3 linked regions of the Homo sapiens genome follow. The protein of the gene in region 1 interacts with the protein of each later gene in a biochemical or structural test. Each region holds a gene or a part of one and is shown in the gene's direction. Other genes may lie near its edges. The genes, in order: PTH, PTH2R and MEP1A.

Region 1 (4,228 bases):
ACTGATTGATATCCTCAGTGTATGTTCCCATTTGTTTCTACTGCTTCTAAAATGGAGCCTGGAGCAACACTCTAAGTGAGGTTAACCCAGAGTGGAGAATCTCCTAGGACAGGACTAGTATATATCTCTCATTATAAACTCCATACGGTTACTATTCAAATTTGTACTGGCTCTTACCTAAGGTAGAGTCAAACCTTGACAATGGCTAGTAGGAAAAAGGATGACATGAAGCCAGGATGGGACCAGAGCTGAGAGAACTGATCCCACTCTGGCACCGGATCTTTGGTGGGAAGGCAAAGCTGTCTAAAGGAGTCCTAGATATATCAAAGACATTCAGGGTGTTTTGACAGGTGGACCAGGAAAATATTGCTGGAGGAATATTTGAAGTCAGACATGTGGCAGCATCATGCCTCCAATAGGTTTTGGAGCAGGCTCTCATCATCCCTTAGGGAACATGAGAATAAAGACCTAACCCCTAGGGGAAAATGTTGCAAAGAGCTTTTGCTGTGTTTTCAGATGACTTTGCAAATTAAAGTCAAGAAGACTGGAGTTCAAAGAAGGGCTGTATTTCTAGGCAGAAACTGAGGTAGTAAGAATCTGGTGTCATAAAGACCTTTGTTGAATTCCATCTTTTCTGCTTTCCAAGCCTAAGTTTCCTCATGTAAAAATGGGGATAAGCACTTAACTTTAGTACTTTAAGTACTAACTTTAAAGGACTGCTGTGAAGATCTAGTGGGATAATATATGTAGTTAGGCATGCAGTTAGTGCTTATCAAATGTTATTATTATAGATTAAGATGCACAAATAAAATATAAGTTAAATAAATTTTAAAATAATTTCACTTTTGAAGCTTTTAAAGTAATTATGTACTAAGAGCATTTTCTCAAATTATTCTTAACACTTCCTTTAAGAAAAGGGCTATATCTGTTTTTTGAAAGATGACCAGAAGTGACATGGATTGGTTGAAAATGGCTTGTAAAGTAAGCCTAACATTTATGATTTATTACCATAAAAACTGTACCAACAGTACGGTTATAACAAATACACTTATTTTTGGGTTTTATTTTCAAGTAAGATAATGACTTTATCATAAACCTTTGAAATCAGTCTTTTTACAGTATAAATTCAGATTCATTAATCCACATAGAATTTTTCTCGATGGTATAATTCTGTATTTGTTAAAAGTCTTTGCATAAGCCCCTTGTCAAGCCAAATGCTGTTTTCCTTTTAGTATCCAATTATCTGAAACTTAAGAAGAGTGTGCACCGCCCAATGGGTGTGTGTATGTGCTGCTTTGAACCTATAGTTGAGATCCAGAGAATTGGGAGTGACATCATCTGTAACAATAAAAGAGCCTCTCTTGGTAAGCAGAAGACCTATATATAAAAGTCACCATTTAAGGGGTCTGCAGTCCAATTCATCAGTTGTCTTTAGTTTACTCAGCATCAGCTACTAACATACCTGAACGAAGATCTTGTTCTAAGACATTGTATGGTAAGTAAACTTAAAAATTCACTTCTGAATCTCATGAGATTTTGATAATCAAGTTATTATTTAATGTGTACCATTTCTACAAATACCATGTTGTTTCTTCAAGGTAAAATGCTAAGAAGTTTGAGTTATGTTTAATATAAAATGCCACATACAAAATAAATTAATGCTACTCAAATCACAAAATCCTTTTTGATTAAAGTCTTCTGAGATACCTTGCCTTTTAAAACCTCATCTGAAATTACAACAAAAAATCATTAAAATTTGGCATGCTATGCTTTAATATAATAGTATCGGTGTCAAAATTTTGAAATAAAACAGGTTGATGGTGAATGAATAGTTCTGATTTAAATAATCTTTATAAATTTATTAAGTGGAGTTAATATTCTGTTTTTCCTGCAGAGTATTCTTATCTAGATTATTTATTTTATGGCTCATAAAGAGCCCAATCTGTATACTAAAGTTGGATAAGCCCAGTTTGACTAGTAAATATTTATTTCCTTTACATAAATGACAGCTGTATTCTGAAAACAGTATTTCCTATGCTATTTCTAAATGATGCAGTTTCCCTGTAAAATAGGAGTACATAACTACTCTATGTGTATGTTAAAAGGTAGTACACTGAGCATTAAGGAAAAGCACTTCTATAATAACAGCCTTTGCAAGTACTGAAATGCAGATTAAGGCAAGAATATCCTATACTGATGTGAAACGAGGAAAGAGACAAAAGTTATATTAAAAGATAATTGTTAATAAAATAAGTTGAAGAAATAAGCTACAAACAAGCATTCCATTCAGAGATAAAGCTCGAAATCCATATCACAAGTAATTAATCAGATGATTTTTAAATGCTTTGACACATTATTTTTAATGCTAGGAGAAATGTGAATTAATTTAGTGAAAATCTCTAGATTAGCACCTATTAGTTTGGTATTTATGGTTATTACAATGCCTGAAATGAAGGTTACTTAAGAAAAGGATTTGCTACGTAAATAGTGTTAACAATTTACACTATGAAGAAAATTAGGCATTTTCAAGCAAGTTATAAACATTTAGGTATAATCAACATAAAATGCAGTGCGGGGGGATTTCTCAAAAATAGGCTCTTTCATTCCTCTTGTAGCTTAAGATTTCTGCAGTGTGACAGAAGGGAGCATGAGAAGCATGGCTCACCAGCCAGCCTCTATTGTCTATGTAATTAGAAGCTTCAGAACTCACTAATACCACTGTACCTTTCACTGGCGCATTACCCCATAAAACTTGAGATGAGGTGAGATCTGAGTATAAAGATAGGTCAGAAGTATTTTAAAGGGCTTAATTTGCCAAAAAGAAAAGTAAAAAGCTAGAGACCCTTTTTGCAGAACATTTGGTGACCACACATTTGAGGGAAGATGTGGCATTAGATGAAGCAGAAGCAAACCCTGCTCTTAGGGGCTCATCTAGGTGAGTGCACAGCCTGTGACACTACAGGGAGAGGCTCAGTAAACTGAGATCCAGCATTCTGTATGACAGAGGCATTGCTTATCACAGAGGTTCTGAATTTTAAGTAGGAAGTACATAATGAAGAGGGCTTTAAAAATTGCTAAGAAAGCGAGTCACCAGGGCTGGCAGTAGTGTAACAGGGCCATCCTGAGCTGTTAGGAGAGTAGATGCAGGGAGGGCTGGTGACCTCCGTGGGTTTATCTGTTGGAGACTCTTCTCTCCAAATCCCAGGCCTGGCTTCCAGCACCATCCAGCTGTGCCCAAGAAGCCACGCTGGTCTGTTCTCCAAGTCTTTTAAATGGTGCCTAATTTTTCTAAGTGAGCTTAGCAATGAGAAGAAAAAAAAAACATGAATTATTTTTCTGGAAAATCAAGGAGACATGGGTAACAACAGGCACTAATAAATATTTATAGATGAGTGAATGAGGAAATAATTACATAAAAAAGGTCAGTGACAATTGATAAATGACAAGGAAATATTTAATTAGGTAAAAGTAAACCATTGCTCTCTATACTAGGATAGACTTTATCTACTTCGTCTTTTCCTAAGTCAGCATGTTAATTCTGGGGGAGGATCATAAGAAAGGAAATACTTTTTTAAAAAAAATTTAAAAACATGTAACAAAGCAAGGGTAAAATATATGTATATACATAAGTGGTATGACTGTAAAACTGTACTTTCCATTAGTTATTAGCTGAGTTAAGAGAATGATCACGTTGAAGTACTGTGTGGACTAGAAATGTACTCTGTCATCATGCAATGAAATGTTGCTAACATTTTAACATAGCTCATTTATGCAGAATGAATTCTGGCAGTTTACCCCAAGTCACAGTTAGGACGGTAGATGGTGAGATCGCAGATGCGTGATTATCTAGATTCAGTGTTACATTTTTGATGTTTATCACTCAGTGGATTTTTATTAATATGCTGATTAAGTTATTTACTTGGCCAGTCATTGTGCTAAATAGTTGCTCTTTTGTGTTTCATTGCCTTGATGTTTGAGTGTAATCTAGCATTTTAATACAGTGTTTATTTTGCATGATCTTTAACAAATGTTTTAAGCAATTTTAAAAAGGCAGGATGTTATTGACATTATACATTGAAGTCTTAACATTTTAATATTTATAGTGCTTATTAGTTTGCAAAATTGTATAATTAGGAATTATTTCAGAGACAATGTTTTCTTTTTCAGGTGAGTAGTTGCCGCTTAATATCATTGGAGTACATTCTTTATACTGTTTGTGAAATTAATA
Region 2 (3,655 bases), on another chromosome or scaffold:
TTAAACACAGAGACAGGTGTTAAAGTCTCCCACACAAGATGCATGCACTCTGACCCTTTAGGTTATTTTGTTTGTTTTCTTGTTGTGATCATATGTATCATATTCAACATTTTTAATTTGTAGTTATTTTAAAGTTAATTTAAAGTTTTGTCTTCACAAAACTTATTTATTTTGTATTGACGTGTCTTATGAAAATAACTCCACTTTGGGAGGCTGAGGTGGGCGGATCATGAGGTCAGGAGATCGAGACAATCCTGGCTAACATGGTGAAACCCCGTCTCTACTAGCCGGGCGTGGCAGCGTGCGCCTGCAGTCCCAGCTGCTGGGGAGGCTGAGGCAAGAGTATGGTGTGAACCCGGGAGGCGGAGCTTGCAGTGAGCCGGGATCATGCCACTGCACTCCAGCCTGGGTGACAGAGCAAGAATCCGTCTCAAAAAAAAAAAGAAAATAACTCAACTTTCAGTAAATGCACATACTAGATAACATTTAAATTTATATTAAATTTACTTAATTTAACATTTAAATTTAAAACAACATTTACATGTCAAGTATTTTTGCCTTTATTTCTGTGTTCTAAATTATGTAACAATTCATATTAAGACTCGTGATAAAAAATCCTTAAAGGATCCCAAAGTAGTTTTCTGTTCTTCATTCTTCCATGGTAGTCTCTATGCTAGTCTTATGCATAAGATTCTCTAAGAAGGTGAGAAAAGCAATTCTATGAAGACATAATGCCTGTGTACGATATTTGACATAATTATCATCTAAAACATAATGCCAACTCAACCACCATTAATAAATACTGTATAGAACAGCATTCAGGAAGTACCTGATCAGAAGAATGTAAAGGAAGCAGAAGATGCAGATATAAGAATGATAAGATGTGAAAATTGATGAAAGACAGGCAGACACTTTTTGAAGACAACCAAGATAGAACAGCTGAGGGATCTATGTCAGGCCATGTGGTAGAATCTATGCCAGACTGTATGGTGGATTTATATCTAATCATCCTACCAGAAGCAGCTGTCCCCTCCCCATTACATAGTATCACTTTTATTTATTCTTCATAGCACCAATTCATAACCAAAAGCAACTGAAGTTGCTTTGTTAATTTTGACTGCTTCACCAGAATATAAGTTTTAGAAAACAGGGATATTGTTTATTTGTTCATTATTTATATCATTTAGAACAATCTTTGACACATAAATAGACAATAAATGATTAATGGAGAAATGTGATAGATAGATAGATAAATAGATAGATAGATAGATAGATAGAATATGCAAACTGAACCTAAGAAATAACCAGAATTAGGTAGGTCTATTTTGACAAAAAATTCCTAGAACACAGAATTTGAGCAGATTAAAGAAAGAATACTATAGAAACAAGAAATAAAATTGGAATATAGAATCATAAAATTCAGTAGTGATATAGGCAGGCTGAACTTAAGTTAGATGGTCACTAAGGAGACCAAAGACATTATTGTGCATATCATCATTTTCATCTTTTTCTGAAAATTTTCTTTTTCTAAGCCTATTTCTTTGTTCACTTTGTTGCTAAGAAAGAATATAAAAAAATTACAATTTTTTTAAAGGTTAAGAATTTAAAGTTATGCTTGATAAAAAATGTTCTTGGCTAGACCAAAATTTTGTTTTCCCCTTTTGTAAGGTGCTTCCTAGATTCTAAAATGTTTTCCTTATGGTTTCTGTATATCCTTTATTTAAACCACTTTCATAAAGGCCACATAATGAAAAGTCATCTCTTAAGTCTTTCAGTCCCCTACTGCAGTATTCCATATAAGTTATGGTTCATGATTTTTTTGTGTGTGATGTCAGAGTTTAATCAAATACAACATGAGCTGGACAGTGAACTTTTACTGGGGGGCAAACGAAAGTCGGTATAATGGATTTGATGTTACAAGCCCAGAAGGTGTTTAGCACTTATGAAGGACAAATATCTCGCGCTCAAATCATCAGACAAATATAGTGGTCACCCTTTTCTATTAATGCATGAAAATGCTTCTGTCTTGTGCCAACGTGAACTAAAAGAAGAGACTAAACTGGTTAAAACTTCCTGATTTTTATAACTTGCCTCAGTATGCCTTCCATTTTTAGGATGAAAAAATTCTAAGTTTTTAAAACAACAGCATCCCTCAGCTTTTCAGGAGTCCCTGTGTTGCTTCACTCCTTGAGAGCATATGATGGTCAGCGTGACAAGAGTCAAAGTCAAATGCCAACCATTGCTTACTTCCAACCCTAGGAACTTCACTCTTCTCCAAATATGGCTTTTCCCTACACCCCTCAGATGAAAATTAGGCCAGTTTTTATCTTCAGACTAGAGGAACAAATAACATCAATATTCTTGCTAATTTCTCAAACTGACATGATTAAAAATTAAGTGGACTTTTCTTGTTCACATATCAGAAATTTTCATGTCTATTTTTATCTCTGAACAGCTAATAGTATATTCTTATATATGGTGAATTTGAGGAAAAAACCTCCTTAATCTTAAAATAAATCTAGTCTCTGAATCATTTTCTGATTTCAGGGTTTCCAGCAGCATTTGTTGCAGCATGGGCTGTGGCACGAGCAACTCTGGCTGATGCGAGGTGAGTGAAAAGGCAGGGGAAACGAGAGAACCTCAGATGTTCTCAAGACTCAGGCTTCCTGCTCAGAATTCACACTCGCTTCTGTTCTTGATGCCATTGCTTTTTAGGGATGCCACAAGGAAAATTACCTTGATGCGATGGTAGCTTCCAACACATTACCAGCAAGCTGTCTATTCCAGAGGTCATAGAGCAGAAACACTCGCAGACTAGATGAAGGTGCCTGACCTCCATAGATTAAGAAACAAATGTAAAATATAATGTGAGAAGCAAGTGGAAAGAGATGGGTAAGAGAATCCACTTAGGATTTAGTGAAAGCAGGTTGAAGAACTACACTACCTGATTCCTAGGATAGGCAGTGTTCATACTCTCTCTCTCTCTCTCTGCCACATCAACTTTTCCTGAGGATGGTGTGGTTATGAGGACCTGCGATAAGGTAGCACGAAGGGGAACTACAGACAGAATCTGGTGCCCTGGGCCAGTGACACATACTTCCTCATAGAGATGGAGAGGCAAGTACACTGGCTACATTTGTAGCTTCTGAATTAGCCTGCAGAGAAGTTCTGGGTTTTATTTGTGGCCCTTGGGAAAAGGACATGTGGGAAGGAGTTCCATCAATCCATGAATCCTCAAAATCAAAATATTTTTGAGGCTGATAATGCCCTCAAAAATATTAAGAACTTCCTTTGTATCAGGGATTGTTCATGGCTCTTGTATATTTAGTATATTATGAATGTTTAGAGCTCAGTTGCCTCATGTGTCTTTAGTACCTGGGTTTAACACACGTGTGGTCTACTAACTCATCCTTATCTATATTTAATGCAAACTGTGGGTTTCATGCATCCCATTTGTTACCATATCTTCTATAGCAGAATTAAATATTTTAAAATAATAAACACATATTAGAAGTGGAATTTATCTCTAACTGTGAGTCATTAAGTTCTTCCAGGTAGCATGGAGCTAATTTAATGTGTCATTTTAAAGTACAAGAAAACAATGCTATAAATCATTTAAAATGTATCATTTTTAAGGATACATTTTAATGTATCA
Region 3 (3,655 bases), on another chromosome or scaffold:
GCATGTGTTTTATTGCTTGAGGTTTTTGCAGGTCATATAAATGGAGATAACCAATAGTAGTTAGATAGTTTATTTTTCTGTAAAGGGGAAACATTTAAAGTATATCTCAGGCCTTGCAAAGACCACACATTTTAGGGCCTCTCTGCTTTTGACTACTGCATTTTGTCCCTTGGCAATCTCTGACCTTCAAGGAAGTGCTAAAACCCTTAATTTTTCATTGAAAACGTCAGAGAAACAATTAACTTTATTAACAAATTTATTTCCATTCTTCAGCTACCACTTTTGCATCATTCTTTTTTCACAAAGAAACTCCTTAAAAATAAAACAAAATCCACATAATTACTTTCCAAAATTCTCACTTTCACAGTGAAGTTCTCCCAACTTCTTTTTTTGTTTTCAAGTGAGTCCCAACTACTTGATTAAGGGGTAGGTCAGCTTTGAGAGACATTCTTTGTAAAAGCACTGAATCTGGGAAACCTAATCACCTATGGCCAGGAGATGTCTCTGTTACAGATAATTTAAGAGAGGGAAAAAGAGAGGAAGATATTTTGGGAAGGGACTGGCCCAAAGTGCCCCTAAGCCCTTCAGGGCACTGGTCTCCTGAAGTTGGAGGCTAACTGGGACTCTTTCAGAAAGACAAGGTCAAAAGTTCTCAGTGAGGTGGAATGTATGGTATTTTTGCAACTTATGTCTTTCTGTTGGGGGAGGAATTTAAAAAGAAAGATGAATAATAAATGCTTTCTCTGAGTTGTGAATATTTTGCAGAGTAAACTCTGATTTGGTAATAAAATGCCACTATCAGAGAGGCAAGTTGATCATGGTTACATTTGCATAACACTGTAAATTTACTAAAAGTCATTGAATTGTATACTTAAAATTAAAGAATTTTATAGTATATAAATTATACCTTAATAAAGTTATTAGAAAATAAATAACTAAGATTCATCTTTGAGTAAAAATCAAATCTGTTAGCCTTTGAAGGTATACTGTGTCAGTAGTCTTGGGGAGAACATTGGCAGGTAAGACACTGTGACTGTCACCATGAAACTTGCAATCCATTGGTTGCATTTATGACTATCAGGAAATCTTTCTTTTCTGCTCAGCATTGGGTAAAATATAGATCTTCATTTGACAATTTAAAGCCAATAGGAGACAATTTGTGGAAAGCTTTGGGTTTGCTAATAGAGGTGAAAAATTGGGTTTATGAGAAGAGAAAAAATAATTGGGGGGAGAATGAAAGAGGAAGACATTCTACCGTAAGGAATTCAGGGAATCTGACAGAGGTTCCCGAGCCCACTGATTTCAGAGGGACGCTACAGGTCCTCCTTGCCTGATACCCTTCAGAAATAAGTTAGGCAGCCTTCTCTGTGCTGTCATAACACTGTAGATCTGCTATTTCCGAAGACATGGATTTTATTAATTTGCTTTTTAATGAGGATCTTTTTATGATCATAAAATATATGCTTGTTCATTATAGGAACTTTGAAAATTTATTAAAGTATAAAAGGGCTAGGTGCGATGGCTCACACCTGTAATCCTAGCATTTTGGGAGGTCAAGGAGGGCAAATCGTTTGAGCCCAGGAGTTTGAGACCAGGCTGGGCAACATGGCAAAACCCTGTCTCTACAAAAAAATAAAAACATTATCTGCCTGTGGTTCCAAGTCCCAGCCTCTCAGGAGGCTGAGGTGGGAAGATCACCTGAGTAGAGGAGGCTGAGGCTGCTGTGAGCTGTGATTGTGGCACTGCACAGCAACCTGAGTGATAAAGTGAGACCCCCAATCTCAAAAAAATTAAATCAACCACAGCTTTCCCTCAGACAACAATTTTTTAGATAAAGGCAACAGTGTTATTCTTTGGAGTGCCCTGTGGGTTTGTGGAGGTGAGAAGGAATGCCAATGTTTATTGCTTTCTACCTTGACGAATTGTTATAATAGGATTGATTTGCTTCTGAGTATGTGCCACTTTTATAATGTATTATATCTTCACTTTTAAAGCCTGCACAGTATTCCCTCTAGGGAATGCTCCTTCTTTAAGCAGTCCCCATCTTTGGACCATTAGCATATGAGAATGCTGTTGGTAATTTCTTTCTAAAATCAAGCCTAATTTCCTCCTAATTTGTGTTTTGGAGTACTGTGAATGACAGCCACTTAAAAATTCTCTAGAAGAAATTTTTCCTCTTCTCCTCTTTAAAGGTGCTGGTCTGAGGTTGGTGACCAACATGTGGGACAGAACATTTCCATTGGCCAAGGATGTGCCTATAAGGCCATCATAGAACACGAGATCCTGCATGCTTTGGGATTTTACCACGAGCAGTCAAGGACGGACCGGGATGATTATGTGAACATCTGGTGGGACCAAATTCTTTCAGGTGTGATTGGGCGGAGATTGCTATCACATTTATCACTGGCTGAGACCAATCCTGAGATGACCAAGCCAAATCTGTGTGGACAGGAGCTTCAGCCTCTCTAGTGGGAAGAAAGACTCTGAAGAGGTTATGATTTGTTGGCCCTTTATGTGGGCTGTGCTGGTCTGACCGGAATTCATCGCAGATAAGGGCCTCAAGGAATGGTGTTAACTCACTGTGGGGGTCAACTGAAAGTTAACCAGAAGCTTTGCTTTATATCAGTGTTTTCATTAAAACTCTATCTAAAACTCTACTTTCCTGTCTTACTGAGGAAAGTGAATCCAGATTTTAAAGTCATTTCTCTGGATGTGAAATCTCCTGTGCCTCTAGAAGGCTGTTTGAGGTTTAGTTGATTATTCCATGACTATAGGGCATACTCAAGAAGTATTTTTTCCAGTTGCTTTACCAAATCAATAAAAAATGTTTAAAAACAAAAACAAAAATAAATGCTTTTATCTGAAATAACACCCCAATTATGTTAATTCTAGCTAGTTATCTGGGTTCTGATTAATCAAAGGTGAATGTTTTTTTCTTCCTTGTTTCTAAGCACCTTGCTTCTTCTGCCTCCACCTCATACAATGCAAAATACAACAGTTTTGTCTTACGTATTATTCCGTTGTATTATTTTAACTATTTCATTGTTCTTTAGGTTGTTTTGTTTTGTTTTGAGACAGAGTTTTGCTCTTGTGGCCCAGGCTGGAGTGCAATGGTGCGATCTCAGCTCACTGCAACCTCTGCCTCCTGAGTTCAAGCGATTCTCCTGCCTCAGGGAGGCAGATGGGATTATAGGTGTGTGTCACCATGCCTGGCTAATTCTGTATTTTTTAAGTAGAGATGGGATTTCATCATGTTGGTTAGGCTGGTCTTGAACTCCTGACCTCAGGTGATCGGCCTGCCTTGGCCTCCCAAAGTGCTGGGATTACAGGCATGAGCCACCACCGTGTCCGGCCCTTACTTTCCTTAATTGTTTGAGACAATGAAGTAGAGTGCTTTTGAGTACACTAAAACATTTATTGAGCAGCTTCCTGATGTGGTAGAAAAAAAAAAAGTCAATGCTGTGTTTCTGAAGATACCTAGTTTTTAAGAAGGAATTAGTGAAGAGAATGCAAAAACATTGTTTTTGGCAGTAAGAGATTAATGAAACTTTAATATATTTAAAATGCCTTAACTGTTTCCGGCATGGCTTTTATAAAACAAATAATAGCCTTGTGTAGGTATCTGTTTTATTTAGATCCCAATTTTATATGCGGA

Evidence for each region.
Region 2: the proteins of PTH (region 1) and PTH2R form a complex in vitro, tested with the Homo sapiens proteins (one study listed by BioGRID).
Region 3: of the proteins of PTH (region 1) and MEP1A, one has a biochemical effect on the other in vitro, tested with the Homo sapiens proteins (one study listed by BioGRID).

The regions. Positions count from the first base shown.
Region 1 is NC_000011.10:13,493,178-13,497,405, reverse strand, and holds the start of PTH (parathyroid hormone isoform 1 preproprotein), read left to right. Parts: upstream 1-1,408; 5' UTR 1,409-1,495; intron 1,496-4,228. UniProt on the Homo sapiens protein: Parathyroid hormone elevates calcium level by dissolving the salts in bone and preventing their renal excretion. Acts by binding to its receptor, PTH1R, activating G protein-coupled receptor signaling.
Region 2 is NC_000002.12:208,448,202-208,451,856, forward strand, and holds part of PTH2R (parathyroid hormone 2 receptor isoform 1 precursor), read left to right. Parts: intron 1-2,547; coding exon 2,548-2,608; intron 2,609-3,655. UniProt on the Homo sapiens protein: This is a specific receptor for parathyroid hormone. The activity of this receptor is mediated by G proteins which activate adenylyl cyclase. PTH2R may be responsible for PTH effects in a number of physiological systems.
Region 3 is NC_000006.12:46,817,337-46,820,991, forward strand, and holds part of MEP1A (meprin A subunit alpha precursor), read left to right. Parts: intron 1-2,192; coding exon 2,193-2,368; intron 2,369-3,655.